Linked DNA regions of Homo sapiens: region 2 is linked to region 1. A link means that fine-mapping ties the variant in region 1 to the expression of a gene that starts in the linked region. Tissue or cell type: whole blood. Region 1 holds a variant in brackets; the other region holds the start of a gene. All regions are shown on one strand. Distances are from middle to middle.

Region 1 (8,100 bases):
CTGAGGCAGGAGAATCGCTTGAACCCAGGAGGCAGAGGTTGCAGTGAGCTGAGATCGCACCACTGCACTCCAGCCTGGGTGACAGAGCAAGACTCTGTCTCAAAAGAAAAAGAAATTAATTGGTATTTGTGTGTGGATCATTCTCTGGACTCTGTTTTGTTCCACTGATGTATGTGTCCATCCTTTTGCCAATATTACTTTACCCTGATTATCTATCTTTGTAGTAAGACTTGAAATCAGGTACTATGAGTCCTCCAACTTTGTTTGTTTGTTTGTTTTTGTTGTTTGTTTGTTTTTAGCTCACTTCAGTCTCTAACTCTTGGGCTCAAGCAATTCTCTCACCTCAGCCTCTCTAGTAGCTAGGGCCACAGGTGTGCACTATCACACCCAGCTAATTTTCTTTTGTTTTCCTCACTGCAATCTCCACCTCCCAGGTTCAAGCGATTCTCCTGCCTCAGCCTCCTGAGTAGCTGGGACTACAGGTGCATACCACCACATCTGGCTAATTTTTTGTATTTTTAGTAGAGACAGAGTTTCTCTGTGTTGGCCAGGATGGTCTCGATCTCCTGACATTGTGATCTGCCCGCCTTGGCCTCCCAAAGTGCTGGGATTACAGGCGTGAGCCACCGCACCCAGCCTCCAGCTAATTTGAAAAATGTTTTTCTGGAGATGGGGTGTCTCTATGTTACCCAGGCTGGTCTTGAACTCCTGGCCACAAGTGATGCATCTTGGCTCCCAAAGTGCTCAGATTACAGGCATGAGCCACCGCACCTAGACTTCTTCTTCTTTTTCAAAATTGTTTTGACCATTCTAGTTCCTTTTCTTTTCCACGTAATTCTTAGAATCAGCTTGTAGACTACCAAAATATTGCTAGAACTTTAAAACCAATTGCACTGAATGTACAGATCAATTTAAGACACCTTAATAATATTGAGTCTTCTTATCCATGAACATGATATATCTTGTCGTTTGTTTTAGTCTCCTTTGATTTTTCTCATCAGGGTTTTGTAGTTTTCTGTGTAAATCTGCTGCACACATTTTGTTAGATTTATACCTATTTCACATCTTTTGGTGTTATCATAAAGGATACTTTTTTTTTTAAACAAAGTTTCACTCTGTCACCCAGGCTGGAGTGCAATGGCACTGAGACAGCCAGATGGGAAGGGGTCCCCAGAGAAACTTCAACCAGCCTGTGCACTGGGAGGAGTGCACATTGGGATGGAGACACAGAAGTTCCTGCTGTTTGCAGTGGGGAGGAGCCTGGCCCCTCCTTTACCTGGGTGGAACCTGCAATTCAATCCATGAGGCAGGAAGCACATACTAACAGTACTTTCACTCTGCTGAGAGTCCCTGTTTCCCTCTGTTTCCCATTTGGCCCAATAAATCCCATTTTTCTCATTCTTCAAATTGTCTGCAAGCCTAGATTCTCATGGCCATGTGACAAGGACTCCATCTTTAGCTGAACTAAGGAAAAGCCCAGCAACAGCACCATCACAGCTCACTGCAGCCTCAACCTCCTGGGGCTCAAGTGGTCCTCCCAGCTAAGCCTCCAAGTAGCTAGGACTACAGGCATGCACCACCACACCCAGATATTTTTTGTATTTTTTTCTGTAGAGACTGAGTTTTCCCATGTTGCCCAGGCTGGTCTTGAACTCCTAGGGTCAAGCAATCCACCCACCTCAGCCTCCCAAAGTGCCAGGATTACAGGCATGAGCCACTGCAACTGGCAATGGTACTTTACATTTCAATGGTACTTCACATTACAATGGTTTTTTTGTTTGTTTGTTTTTTGTTTTTGTTTTTGTTTTTGAGACAGAGTCTCGCTCTGTTGCCCAGGCTGGAGTGCAGTGGCACACTCCACCTCCCGGGTTCATGCCATTCTCCTGCCTCAGCCTCCCGAATAGCTGGGACTACAGGCGCCCGCCACCATGTCCGGCTAATTTTTTGTATTTTTAGTAGAGATGGGGTTCACCGTGTTAGCCAGGATGGTCTCGATCTCCCGACCTCGTGATCCACCCACCTCGGCCTCCCAAAATGCTGGGATTGGGATTACAGGCGTGAGCCACTGCGCCTGGCCACAATGATTTTTACATTTCTTCGTCTTTTTTTTTTTTTTTTTTTGAGACAGAGTCTTGCTCTGTTGCCCAGGCTGGAGTGCAGTGGCACGATCTCGGCTCACTGCGATCTCTGCTCACTGTGACTTCCACCTCCCAGGTTCAAGTGATTCTCCTGCCTCAGCCTCCCGAGTAGCTGGAACTACAGGCTCACGCCACTATACCCAGCTAATTTTTTTGTATGTTTAGTAGAGACAAGGTTTCACCATGTTGGCCAGGCTGGTCTCGAACTCCCAACCTCATGATCCACCCACCTCGGCCTCCCAAAGTGCTAGGACTACAGGCATGAGCCACCATACCCAGACGGTTTTTAACATTTCAAGTTCCAACTTTCTTTTTCTTTTCTTTTTTTTTTTTTTTTTTTTTTTGAGACAGTCTCACTCTGTTGCCCAGGCTGGAGTGCAGTGGCGTGACCTCAGCTCACTGCAAACTCTGCTTCCCAGGTTCACACCATTCTCCTGCCTCAGCCTCCCTAGTAGCTGGGACTACAGGCGCCCACCACCACGCCCAGCTAATTTTTTTGTATTTTTAGTAGAGACAGGGTTTCACCATGTTAGCCAAGATGGTCTCCATCTCCTGACCTCATGATCTGCCTGTCTTGGCCTCCCAAAGTGCTGGGATTGCAGGCGTGAGCCACCACTCCTTGCCCCAATTTTCACTGTACAGAATTAAAATTGGTTTTTTATTGACCACATATCCTGTGACCTTGCTAAGTTGCTTATTACTTATAGTAGGACATTTTTGTAGATTCTTTGAGATTTTCTATATAGACGATTATGTAATCTGTTAGTATAGTTTTATTTCTTCCTTTTCAATCTATATGCTTTTTTATAATCTTAATGTAATGTTCCATTACAATGTTGAATAGGAGTGACAAGGACAGATATCCTTACCTTGTTCTCTTTCTCAGTGGAAAAGCACTGAGTCTCTTACCATTAAATATGATATTAGATGTAGGTATTTTACTGATATCAATTATCAGGTTGAGGATATTCTCTTCTGTTACTAGTATACTGACAGTTTTTATCATAAATGATGTTAGACTTCCTTTTCTTTTCTTTTTCTTTTTTAGACGGAGTCTCGCTCCGTCACCAGGCTGGAGTGCAGTGGCGCAATCTCGGCTCACTGCAACCTCCACCTCCCGGGTTCAAGTGATTCTCCTGCCTCAGCCTCCTGAGTAGCTGGGATTACAGGTGCTCGCCACCATACCTGGCTATTTTTTTTTTGTATTTTTAGTAGAGACGGGGTTTCACCAAGTTGGCCAGTATGGTCTCGATCTCTTGACCTCGTGATCCACCCACCTCAGCCTCCCGAAGTGCTGGGATTACAGGTGTGAGCCACTGCGCCTGACCTAGACTTTCTTTTCAAATGCCTTTCTTGTGGGTGCATTTTTTGAGATCATCATATGGTTTTGTAACAGCCCAAGAGGTTCTTCTTGCCCACTGCCCAGAAAAGCCAATGCACTGAGAACAGCAGGTTTTGCAGCAAAGAACATGTTTAATTGCAAGGCCAGCCAAGCGAGAAGATGAGACAATTCTCAAATCTGCCTCCCAGAGAATGCGGAGGCTAGGGTTTTAAGGATAGTTTGGCAGGCAGGGAGCTAGGGAATGGGAAATACTGATTGGTTTGGTCAGGGATGAAACCACAGGGTTATCAAAACTGTCTCTGTGCCTCTGTCAGTTCCTGGGTGGGGGTCACAAGTCTGGGTGGCATCAGTTGTTCCACCAGAATGCAATGCCTGAAAAATATCACAAATACCAATGTTAGGTTTTACAATAGTGATGTTACCTATAGGGGCAACTAGAGAAATTATAAATCTCGTGACCACTAGCTGTATGAATTCTGAGCAGTAAGCAAATTAGAAAACAATGGCTAGTTATTATTAAACTCTGCATAGGTCGTCGCAGAATTCAGGACCCACCTATAATTCTAATCTTATGGCCTTTCATAAGTTTTACAAAGGCAATGTCAGTACCCAAACAAGGAGAGGGTAATTTGGGAAGGGACTGCTATCATCCTTGCTTTAAGGTTAAATTATTAACTAAATTCCTCCCAGGAGTTCCTGCCCAGGAATTGGCAAGGGCAGTTAGCTTATGAGTTTACAAGGAAGTTGGAGCCTGCTATATTAAATTTCTCTGTGTCTTTTTGGGAAAGGGCTATTACCAATTTTGTTTCAGAGTCAAATCATGAACTGAATTCCTTCCCAAAGTTAGTTTGGCATCCACCCAAGAATGTACAAGGACAGCTTGAAGGTCAGAAGCAAGATGGAGTCAGTTAGATCTGATCTCTTTCACTGCCATAATTTCCTCAGTTATAATTTTTGCAAAGGCGGTTTTGTAACCGCCCAAGGGGTTGACCTGACCTTGCCCGCTGCCTAGACAGAGCAGATTCGTCAAGACAGGGCAATTGCAATAGAGAAAGACTAATTCACTCAGAGCCGGCTGTGTGGGAGACCAGAGTTTTATTATTACTCAAATCAGCCTCTCTGAGCATTTGAGCATTCAGGGAGCAGAATTTTTAAGGATAAC[T/C]TGGTGGAAGAGGGGAAGCCAATCAGGAGTGCTGATTGGTCAGAGATGAAATCATAGGGAGTAGAAGCCGTCTTCTTACGCAGTCAGTTACTGGGTTGGGGAGGAGGGGCACGAGATCAGATGAGCCAGTTCATTGATCTGGGTGGGGCCAGCTGATCCATCATGTGCAGGCTCTGCAAAATCAAGCACTGATCTTAGGAGCAGTTCAGGGAGGGTCAGAATCTTATAACCTCCAGCTGCATGACCCTTAAACCATAATTTCCAATCTTGTGGCTACTGTTAGTCCTACAAAGGCAATATAGTCTCCAGGCGAGAAGGAGGTCTGCTTTGGGAAAAGGCTGTTACCATCTTTGTTTAAACTACAAACTATAAACTTAAGTTTCTCCTGGGCAGGCGCGGTGGCTCACGCCTGTAATCTCAGCACTTTGGGAGGCCGAGGCGGGCGGATCACGAGGTCAGGAGATCCAGACCATGGTGAAATCCCGTCTCTACTAGAAACACAAAAAATTAGCCGGGCTTGGTGGCGGGCGCCTGTAGTCCCAGCTACTCTAGTCTCCTGCCTCGGGAGGCTGAGGCAGGAGAATGGCGTAAACCCGGGAGGCGGAGCTTGCAGTGAGCCGAGATCGCGCCACTGCACTCCAGCCTGGGCGACAGAGCGAGCAACGATCCGTCTCAAAAAAAAAAAAAAAAAAAAGTTTCTCCCAAAGTTAGTTCAGCCTACGTCCAGGAATGAACACGGACAGCTTGGAGGTTAGCAGCAAGATGGAGTCAGTTAAGTTAGATCTCTTTCACTGTCTCAGTCATAATTTTGCAAAGGTGGTTTCAGTTTCAATGATATTTTGTTGTAGCAGCAGGAACAAGTTAAGAATTATTATCCTCTTTATTATTGGTCTCAAAATCCCAGGCTCAAGCAATCCTCCCACCTGGGGCCTCCCAAAGTGTTGGGACTACAGGTGTGAGCCACTGCAGGGCCTACGGTTCTTATATATTGCTAAATTCACTTTGTGATATGAAGGATATTGGTTAATAAAGGATATATTGTTCTATAGGTTCTCTCTCCACCCACCTTGTAATGTCTTAGACTGGCTTTAGCATCAGGGTAAGTCAAATATAAATTAAAATGAGTTGGGAAGTATCCCTCCTCCTTCATGTTCTGGGAGAGTTGGTGTAGGATTGAGATTATTTCTTCTCTAAATATGTGAATCAGGGCTTCTGTTGGGGCCGGGGGGCGGGGGCGCTGGGGCGCTGGGCGGTGGAATGAAGGTCACGTGCCCGACGGGCGCCAGCTGGCTAGATGCCTGGCAAGGAGGCGGCGGCGTGCTCCACTGCCCGCCCGACCTGCCTGCCCTTCGCCGCCCGAGAGTGCGCGGCGCGCTCAACGTCACCTTCGACTCGGTGGCGCCACGGCGGGCCCGGGGCAAAGCGCCGGGCTGCGGCAGAAGGGCGGCAGCGGCGGCGGCCGCGATGGATCTAGGCTAGGGCAGTCGCCACCCGCCCAAGCTGCGAGCCCCATACTCGACTCCTGCTCGCCTGCCTGCCAGCCTGCCCGTGGCCCGCGGGTCTCCTTCCTCAAAGGGGGACCTTCTACTCAGAATATCCCGAGTGCTGCGTGGAAGTAAAACTATTCCACAAGATCGACAGTGGGAGAGCCGGCCTGGCACATTGGCTCAGACCTGTAATCTCAGCACTTTGAGAGGCCGAGGCGGGCGGATCACCTGAGGTCAGAGGTCGAGACCAGCCTGGCCAACGTGGTGAAACCCCCTCTCTACTAAAACTACAAAAATTAGCCGGGCGTGGTGGAGGGTGCCTGTAATCCCAGCTACTCAGGAGGCTGAGGCAGAAGAATCGCTTCAACCCTGGAGGCGCGGGTTGCAGTGAGCCGAGATTGCACCATTGCGCTCCAGCCTGGATGAGAGAGCCAGACTCAGTCTCAAAAAAAAAGGAAGTAGGAGAGCCGGCCCAGCGCGTTGGCTCACGCCTGTGATCCCAGCACTTTGGGAGGCTGAGGAGGGAGGATAGCTTGAGCCCAGGAGTTTGAAACCAACCCGGGCAACATAGAGAGATCCTGTCTCTACAAAAAATAGAAAATTTAGCCAGGTGTGGTAGAGTGCGCTGGTGGGCCCAGCTACTCGGGAGGTTGAAACGGGGACATCACTTGAGCCCAGGGGTTCAAGGCTGCAGGAAGCCATGATCGGGCCACTGCACTCCAGCCTGGGCAACAGAGTGAGACATTGTCTCAAAAAAGAAGGAAAGAAGTGACCCTCATCAGCCAGTCTGGAAAACCAGTGCTGTACATCAGCTATGGGCCAGCTTATGACCAGGGTGGCCCAGTTGAAATTTTCCCTCCCTCTACTTTGGCAGGGTCAACCATGCATCCAAGGGAGAGTTCCTCCCCAACCTGCATATCACAGGTCTCCAGGCCAACCTCCAAGACCCAAAGGACCCATCTTCACTACAAATGGATCCCCATGGAAGACAGCCATATGGCTGACACTAACTCCCACTTTCAAGAATAGACAGGCCGGGCACCATGGCTCATGCCTATAATCCCAGCAGTTTGGGAGTCCGAGCCGGGCTGATCACTTGAGGTCAAGAGTTCGAGACCAGCCTGGCCAAGTAGTGAAACCTCATCTCTACAAAAGTACAAAAATTAGCCAGCTGTGGTGGTGAGTGCCTGTAATCCCAGCTACTGGGGAGGCTGAGGCACAAGAATCACTTGAACCCGGGAGGCAGAGACTGCAATCACGGCACTGCACTCCAGCCTGGGGAACAAGAGTAAAACTCCGTCTCAAAAAAAAAAAAAAAAAAAAAAAAAAAAAAAAAAAAAAAATATATATATATATATATATATATATGCAATGGACTTCATTGGCTGTGTCAGGGGAAAAGGAGGCAAGGTCCTGGTCCACTGTGAGGCTGGAATCTCCCATTCACCCACCAGCTGCAAGTCTTCCCCCATGAAGACCAGACAGCTCTGCCTGAAGGAGACCTTCAATTACATCAAGCAGAGGAGGAGCATGATCTGGTCCAATTTTGGCTTCATGGACCAGCTCCTACAGAAGGAATCTGAGATCCCACCCTCCACGCCCACCCCCAGCCTCCCTCTTGCCAAGCGAGGCAGCAGGCTCTTCACTGAAGGTCATTTGCAGATACTGAGCCCAGGCCTGCAGGATGCCTACTGCACATTCCCTTCCCCGGTGCTGGCACTGGTGCCCACCCACCGGACAGTCTAAGAGTTCAGCAGGATCCCTGTGGCCACAGCCACATCCTGCTAAAACTGGGATGGAGGAACCAGCCCAACCCCAAGAGCAACTGTGACTTTTGTTTCTAAGACTCGTGGACACTTCATCCCAGTGCAATACTGAAGACCTCACTCTGTCACACTGCCCCAGTGAGATAGTGAGTGCTCACCAGGCTTGCAAATGAACTTCAGGCTGACCTCAGGGTAGGTTCTCAAA
Region 2 (8,100 bases), 130 kb after region 1:
TGAGTGGGACTAAGAACTAAGGAGAAAAGTGGGAGGGGGTCGGGTACTTGGGCCTGCCTCACAGATGACACAAGGTAGACACCCCCGTGTGAAGCCTTGGTCAAGTCACAGACCTTCTCTGAACCTGTTTCCTTATCAGAACCAAGGCTGATGATACTAATACTTCCCTCTGGGGTTCCTGGGAGGATGGACTGCCTGGGAGGCATAATAATAGTAATAATAACTCCATAACGAAGACTGATATTTGTAGGACTTGATCACAAGCATTAGGCATTCTCCTGATGACTCCAAAGGGGAGCTCAAAGGGAGGGGGCAGCATGGGGTGGGGCTGGAGAGGCCAATCAGCTGAGGGGTGTGTCTTTTCTGCAGCAATGGAAGAGTTGGACGGTGATGATGTGCGCGTGTCCTCTAGGGGACGCTACGCAGAGCGGGACATCGTTCAGGTAGACCTGACGTGGGAGAGGCTGTGGAGCTGAGAGGCACAGTGAGAAGAGGCTAAGTTGGGAGCCACTTTCACTTACTGCCTTCTCAGTCTCCTACTTTTTTCCCCCGTCACTCTTTCATCCTTTCTCATTCATTGAATACATCCTTTTTGACAAACAGGAAGGTTGCTGCAGCCTTGGCACATCCGTGGTGTAGGTCGGGAGGTCCCCAAGGCCCCTGCCCTCTAGTGGAGACAACCAACAATAAATAATCACACAAAGAAATATCTCATTAGATTGTGATAAGTACTCCAGAGGAATAGCAAATGCCACTGTGAGAGCCTGTAACAGGGACCTAACATAGGTACAGTAGTCAGGAAAGGGTTCTTTAGCTTGCCAAGACCTAAGGGAGGGGATAAGCATTACAGGGAGAGGAGCAGCATGTGAGAAGGCTCTGAGGCCCAGAAGAACTGGCCCGATCCACGAAAAAGCAGAAGCTAGGGTAGCAGGATCACACTGAGTGTGAGGAGGGAGGCAAAATTTGGGGGTATGTTAGAATTGGAAAGCTCTTGAAGGATTTTACATAGAGGAGTGAGATGGCATTTTAAAAGGATCTCTCTAGCTGCTGCATGGTGGGTGGACAGTAACAGGGCAAGAGAAAAGGCAGGTAGACTCATTAGTGAGGAAGCCTTTGAAGTAGTAGAGGGGAGGCGATAAAGATCTGGCTAGAAGCAGTGGGGAGGGAGAGAAAGTGGCAGGTTCAAAAGATATTTAAGAAGAAAATTTTACAAGACTTGATGATTAGATGATGACAGGGAGTGAGGAGGGCTTCAAGGATGACTCAGTATTCTAGCTTAAGCAACTGGGTGAGTGACATCCCATTTGCTGGGAAGGGGAAAGCTAGAGGAGGAGATTTGGCAGAAAGAGCTAGAATTCAGTTGTGAACACACTGGGTTCGAAGTATCTGTGACAATTGAATGGAGTGGTAATATGGGCAACTAAATATGTGGTTCTAGACCTTAAAAAGAGGTCAGGGATGGGCCCAAGCATGGCGGCTCATGCCTATAATCCCAACACTTTGGTAGGCCAAGGCAGGAGGGCCTCTTGAGACCAGGAGTTTGAGACCAGCCTGGACAACATAGCAAGACCTGATCTCTGCTACATTAAAAAAATAAAGGCCGGGCGCGGTGGCTCACGCTTGTAATCCCAGCACTTTGGGAGGCTGAGGCGGGCGGATTGCCTGAGGTCAGGAGTTCGAAACCAGCCTGACCAACATGGAGAAACCCCGTCTCTACTAAAAATATAAAATTAGCCGGGTGTGGTGGTGCATGTCTGTAATCCCAGCTACTTGGGAGGCTGAGGCAGGAGAATCACTTGAACCCGGGAGGCAGAGATTGCAGTGAGCCGAGATCGCACCATTGCTCTCCAGCCTGGGCAACAAGAGTGAAACTCTGTCTCAAAAGAAAAAAATAAAATAAATAAAAATAAAACATAATTTTTTGAAAAGAGGTCATGGATGGATATATACATTTGGCAGTCATTAGAAACAGATTTTCTTTTGTTTTTTTTCTCCCTTATCAGCCCCTCTCCCCCCACATCTCATTTCTTCTCCTCTCCCTAAGTCCCTCTCCTAGGCCTCTCTCTCTTCCCAGCCCCTTCTCACAGACTCCTCCTCCTTCTTGCCCCAGCTCCATCTCTCTGACCTCCTCCTGTTCTCAGGATCCCTTCTCTCTGGTCCCTGCCCCTTGTCTCCCCTGCTCCCTCCTTTCCAGTCTCCCTCCCCACCTCCTGGCCTGCTCTACTTCCTTCCAGGGAACAATTTTTAAAGTCATGGAAGTGTATGAAATCATCCAGGAAGAGAGCTGAGAGAGAGAAGGGACCAGGTTTAGAGAGCAGATAGACCCAGAGGAATGGTGGTGGGAGGGGGGAGCTTCAAGAAAGGTAAGCAAGAAGCCAGAAGAGTGTGGTATCAAGAGTGGGACGTGTCCAGAAGAATTATGGTCAAATGTAATGGAAAGCTAAAGAGAAGTCAAGCAAGATGAGGACTAAAAATTACTGTTCACTGGACTGATTTAGCAACACAGGGCCACTGACGACATCAGCAAAAGCAGTTTCAATGGCCTGTGTGAAGCCAAACTGGAGTGGGTTGAGGGTGAATAAAAGGTGGAAAAAAAAGTGGGTGGAGAGAAAGCAAATGTAGAAAACTGTTCAAGATGTGGAGAGGGAGATACTGTGATAGTTGGAAAGAGATGCTGGGGATCAAAAAAGAAGCCTCCCTGCTGCACCCCCATGCCCTCTCTCCTGGTCATGGCTTATCTCTTCTTGTCTGTGCCTGACCCAGTTCGTCCCATTCCGAGACTATGTTGACCGGTCGGGGAACCAGGTGTTGAGCATGGCCCGACTGGCCAAGGATGTGCTGGCCGAGATCCCGGAGCAGCTGCTGTCCTATATGCGCACCAGAGACATCCAGCCTCGGCCCCCACCCCCTGCCAACCCCAGCCCGATCCCAGCTCCAGAGCAGCCCTGAGGATTCCACATATCCAATGCCTCACAGTCTGCAAGCCTGCTCACCCACTGCTTCTGCTTTAAGCCAGAGGCACCTGGAACCCTGGACTTCACTGGGAGGGCCAACTTGGAGGATCAGTGCTGGCTGACAAGCCCTCCGCCTCCTTGCCTGCAGAGGGCCTGGCACTATCACCACCTCTCTGCCTTCATGCCAATAATAAAGCTGATCTTTATTCCACCTCTGTCTCATGCATGTTGGCGAAGGAAGACTATGGGACCCAACGACTGGGGCCACATCAAGAGGGAGGGAACCAGGATGGCTTCAGTTAGATTCATCCCCATCCTAACACGTTCATCCAATCACTTCTTCATACATTCTTCAAAGACCTTAATAAGTGAAACTTTGTATGTTTTTCCTCAGGAGAGAGGCCCATAGTTGTTTTTTTTCTTTTTTCCATAAAATCCGAATCCTACACACGACCCATAGTTCTCAGCAGATTCTCAAACGAATTCCTGACCACTAAAGGAGATAACTTAGTATAACTCTGCTTTGATCCATCTATTCTGAATTATTTTAATAAGGATAATAACAGCTAATATTTTCTTTGAACATTCACTACATGTCAAACCGTGTGCTAGGTGATTTACAAGCATCATCTCATTTAATTCTCACAACAACTCTGAGAACAGGTACTATATATTATTCCCACTTTACCCATAAGGAAACTGAGGCTCTGAGAAGATGAGTCATTTAAGATAATTCATCAGTTTGACTTCAGATCCCAAGATCTTAATCAGCAAACCTCTTCCTGGCATGTCGATTTTATTGGGATGGTTTTTAGAAAACATACATTTTATTGGGTCAAATGCAAAGTTTGCATTAAGAAGATAGAAGCTTTCAGATGCTTTGGGCTTTGTCCCAGAACCCTGGAAGACCTTTCACGCTCCTCTTTGATGACAAAACTGGAGAAGTATTGTTTAAGGATGTCTCCCCCTGCCATGCAAGTTCTCTGAAACCCTCAAGAACTAACAACAGAGTTTTCGAGCTCTGTTTTACAAATAAGGAACTTAAAGAACTGAACTTGCCCACGTTCACATTGCTAGGAGGTGACCCACTCACATTAAATCAGCTGTTTTGGCACCATGTTCCAATCAGCAACCCGCAGCACATCCCTGCCAACCCACAGATTTCCCACCGCTTTACCAGACAAGCCCTTTCACACCCACCGGCCCCAAACCAGCCCCTTCTCTCAGACCCATACCTTTTCTCTAGCACCTCTCCTTTACTTTTCCCAAGTTTCTTCCCTTTCCTTCAGTCACGCCCCGTTATCCCTAATCGGTCCTGCCCTTTCCCCACAGCTCCGCCCCTGCCTTACCAAGCCCCGCCTGCTCCCTTCAGCGTCGCATCGCTTTTTCCAACTTTGTTCTTTATTTCTAGTCCAGCTCCACTTTCCAGGCTCATCCAAAGCTCCGCCCTTTCTCTCGCGAGTACTCTTCTTCTGTTTAGCCCCACTTTTTACCCCGCTATTCTAACAGGCCCCCGCTGTGCGGTAGCCCCGCCCCCTCCCACAAGCCCCGCCCCACAGACCGGTCTAGTCTCCAGCCCCGCCCCGGTCCTACCCATAACTACCGGTCCCTTAGGCTCCAGCCCGCATCCCTCTTGCTCCCGGCCCTGCCCCCAGCCCCGCCCCGTGACTCTGGCCCCGCCTCACCGCCTTCCTCCGAGACCAAGGCCAGGTCCCTCCCGCAGCCGCGGCGCCAGCAGGAGGCAGGGAGCGGATAGGGAGGAGGCAGAGGGGGAGGGGAGAAGGGCGGGCTCCTCACGCCCAGCCCCGCGCTCACCGTCCGTGGTTGCAGATTCGCCACAAACCGCCCGACGACCCCAGATCCCGAGTACGGTGACTTCAGTCTCCAGAAACTCCACTCTAAGATGGGAGAGCTAGAGAAGCCCTGTGGGGTGTCCAGGGTCCTTTCTGAATCCCGGAGCACGGTCTTTCGAGCCTCAGCGGGCGGGCGGGGATCCGTGGCGAAAGTGCAGCTCAGTAGCGCCGCGGCGCCACGTTTACCCTGCGCAGACGCCGTCGCCGCCGCTGCTGCCGCCGCCGCTGCCACAGCCTTTGCCGCCACGGTCTCCGCCGCCGCTGTCCTCGCGCTGCCTCTGGGAGCCTCCATTGTTCCAGCAGCGCCCGGTCCCGAGACCGGGCATCTTGGGGGCTCGCGAAACGGGCGGCGGCCGACGGAGTTGAGACCCCAGGGCGCCGGCGGGACCAGGAGCGGCAGGGGTCAGCTCAGGAATCCCGGGGAGCCGGGACCAAAGCGTGGGGCGGCAGGGGGCCGGGGTGGCGAGGTCTACGGTCTCCGGAGTTGGGGCTCCCCCTTCCCGGCCCGACTTTCCCCGCCGACCTCCCCAAGTGGGGTCGGAGCCCCGGCGGGCGCCCCCGGCGATGAGCCCGGACTCGAGGTGGCCGGTGAGTGCGGGCCTGGGACCAGGGCGGGAGTGGCCGGCAGGGAAGGGGTAGGCTACGTTCGTGGGACGCGCACTGAGCCGCGTGGCCCGGGAACCTCTCTGGCAACTCCAGTTGGGAGAACTGACAGTGCATTGCTTCCCAGCAGGCATCCTGGGGCAACAGTGTATCTTTCGGGGCTGCCCGGGCTAGTGGCAGGCGGGGAGCCTTGTTTCACTTGTTACACTTCCACAAAGGGGAAACGCCGCCGCATCCGGAGAGTGGGCTGCGGGCACTGCCGGGGCCCAGCCCTATCCCTCCGGCCCCCGCCCCTTACTTCCTCCAGCCCCCTGAGCTTCAGGGGCAGATGCAGCCGCCATTCTCCTTGGGCCCTCCCCACGGGCTTTCTGGTCTAAGTTCTCGTCTCCCTCGCCTGTGCCTCTGCTGCCGGGTTCCAAGGGGAGATTGCTGATTCGCTGTGCTACTTTGGGAACCATTCACCCGGGACCCAGCTTGGAAAGAGGAGAGCTTGTTTGTGCTTCGGTTGGTTTATGTTTAAAGACACAGCCGCAGGTAGGAAATAGAAGAGTTGCAGTTGGACGTGTAGCGTTACTGATGTGAAAATCAGGAGCCGTTGACAGTGGAGCTGGAGCAGCCCACTTGCCTGGTTAAGGCACAGGTGGAGAGGCCAAGAGGGGTTATTTTGTCAGGGAGCTCATGATAGCCCTGCCTGGCTGGGATGGTGCCAAGCCCCTAGCTGAATGGTTGAACTCAACTAGGCCGAGAGAAATTGGGGCAGTCTCTGACCAAGCTGGGCTTCCTGAGGCCTGGTGCCATCTGCTGTCTACACTCACCCAGGAATGTTGGGGAGCGGGGAGGGAGGGCCCCTGCGGACCAGCATGGAGCTGAGCATGCCTAGATTGTCGCGTTCGTGTTTGTACCCTTAGGGCCTGGCACTTGGTAGTCACTCAGTTGATGTGTGAGTGGGTGAACAGCTCAAATGTAATACAAGCTGCTGTCACTGACTAAATGACCTCAGTTTTCACTTTGTTTCACAGTACATCTCCTACCCAGTACCAGGGCCAGGCTCCCCATAAAGACCTCAAAAGTAAATGAATTCTTTCTGTGATCCAGTGATTTCTGCAGGAGTCCAACGCTAAAGCATTAGCCACCCACCCATTCAGCTTTCTACATGGCCTTCATCCCATCTGAGCTCTCAGTCTGGTGATCCCCTCATTCAGCTATTCGTTCAACAGGTCATTCATTCGTTCGCCAAAAACTGAATGTCCAGTGCATGCTAGGTACTGGGGATACAGAGGTGGATAGGCTCTGGTACCCTTGCTACACAGCTCCCAGTCCAGGGGGGAGACAACTTTCAGTATGTCAAGTGCTGTGGTAGAGGTGAGAATGGAATGCTGTGGAAACAGCTCCCCATGGGAGAGTCAGAGAAGTTGTGTCAGAAGTGACATTTGAGCTGGTTTTTTGAAGAATGAGTAGGAGCCCACCAATCAGAAAGTATGGAGGGCATTCCAAATAGGGATCATTTTGCAGGAATGAGAGGTTATAACATTCAGGGAATGGCAAGATCCCCTGTGTAGACAAAAACAGCTGTAACTTGTAAAAAGAAAGGAGGACTAGGGCCAGTCAGTGAAAGGAGCTCTTTGAATGGCATCATAGAGAATTTGGAATATTATCTTGAAGGAACTGGGAGCATCAGGAGGCTTTTAATGAAGAGAGTGTCATGATCATTACTACCTGGTAGAAAGATCATTCTCCTACATGATGTGAGATTGGGCTAAAGAAGTTGAGACATAGGGCAGGATAACCAGGCAAGAGGTGATGAGGGCCCAGATATGGGCTATGGTGGAGGAGATGGCATTTGGAGACACTGTAGAGGTAGGCTGGCCAGAATCTGGTGACTCCAAGTGAGGGGGAGGGCTAGAAAGACTGGGGTCTCTGGTGCAAATGGCCAGGAACTCATCCCCAGCCTTATGTTAACTGATCTGTGTATTCTAGATGTGACAGCATGGGGGTGGACTTTGATGTGAAGACTTTCTGCCACAACTTGCGGGCGACTAAGCCACCATACGAGTGCCCGGTGGAGACCTGCCGAAAGGTCTACAAGAGTTACAGTGGTATTGAGTACCACCTGTACCACTATGACCACGACAACCCACCACCCCCACAACAAACTCCACTCCGCAAGCACAAGAAAAAGGGGCGCCAGTCACGCCCAGCCAACAAGCAGTCACCCAGCCCCTCAGAGGTCTCACAGTCACCAGGCCGTGAGGTGATGAGCTATGCACAGGCCCAGCGCATGGTGGAGGTGGACTTGCATGGCCGCGTCCACCGCATCAGCATCTTTGACAACCTGGATGTGGTGTCAGAGGATGAGGAAGCCCCCGAGGAGGCCCCTGAGAATGGCAGCAACAAGGAGAACACTGAGACACCAGCTGCTACTCCCAAGTCAGGCAAACATAAGAACAAGGAGAAGCGCAAGGACTCCAACCATCACCACCACCACAATGTTTCTGCGAGCACCACTCCCAAGCTGCCAGAGGTGGTCTATCGGGAGCTGGAACAGGACACCCCTGATGCCCCACCCCGGCCAACTTCCTATTACCGGTAAGGCCACCTCTACCTTGCAGCTCTGGAAAACTGGTCAAGCAGGGCTCACTAGCCAGAGAGAGGTGAGAGGCACAGATAGAAGAGTGACAGGAATAAAGAAT

Evidence for each region. PIP is the estimated chance that this variant, and not a neighbour inherited with it, causes the effect.
Region 2: it holds the start of BRPF1, and the variant in region 1 is fine-mapped to the expression of BRPF1 in whole blood (INTERVAL, PIP 0.95).

Annotation. Positions count from the first base shown.
Region 1 is chr3:9,594,812-9,602,911 of GRCh38, forward strand. It overlaps LOC105376949 (a long non-coding RNA gene), which reads right to left and starts at 5,876. Exons shown (of 3, transcript XR_940586.1): 1 at 5,709-5,876; 2 at 4,722-4,815; 3 at 3,610-3,852. It also overlaps the pseudogene DUSP5P2. The variant T/C (reference allele first, on the strand shown) is at 4,643.
Region 2 is chr3:9,726,744-9,734,843 of GRCh38, forward strand. BRPF1 (bromodomain and PHD finger containing 1) reads left to right here and starts at 4,992. Exons shown (of 14, transcript NM_001003694.2): 1 at 4,992-5,395; 2 at 7,388-7,996. The coding sequence starts at 7,398. CPNE9 (copine family member 9) reads left to right here. Exons shown (of 21, transcript NM_153635.3): 20 at 370-443; 21 at 2,764-3,165. The coding sequence ends at 2,949. RefSeq lists enhancers at 686-735, 4,428-4,987, 5,548-6,107 and silencers at 4,451-4,810, 5,281-5,330, 5,341-5,470.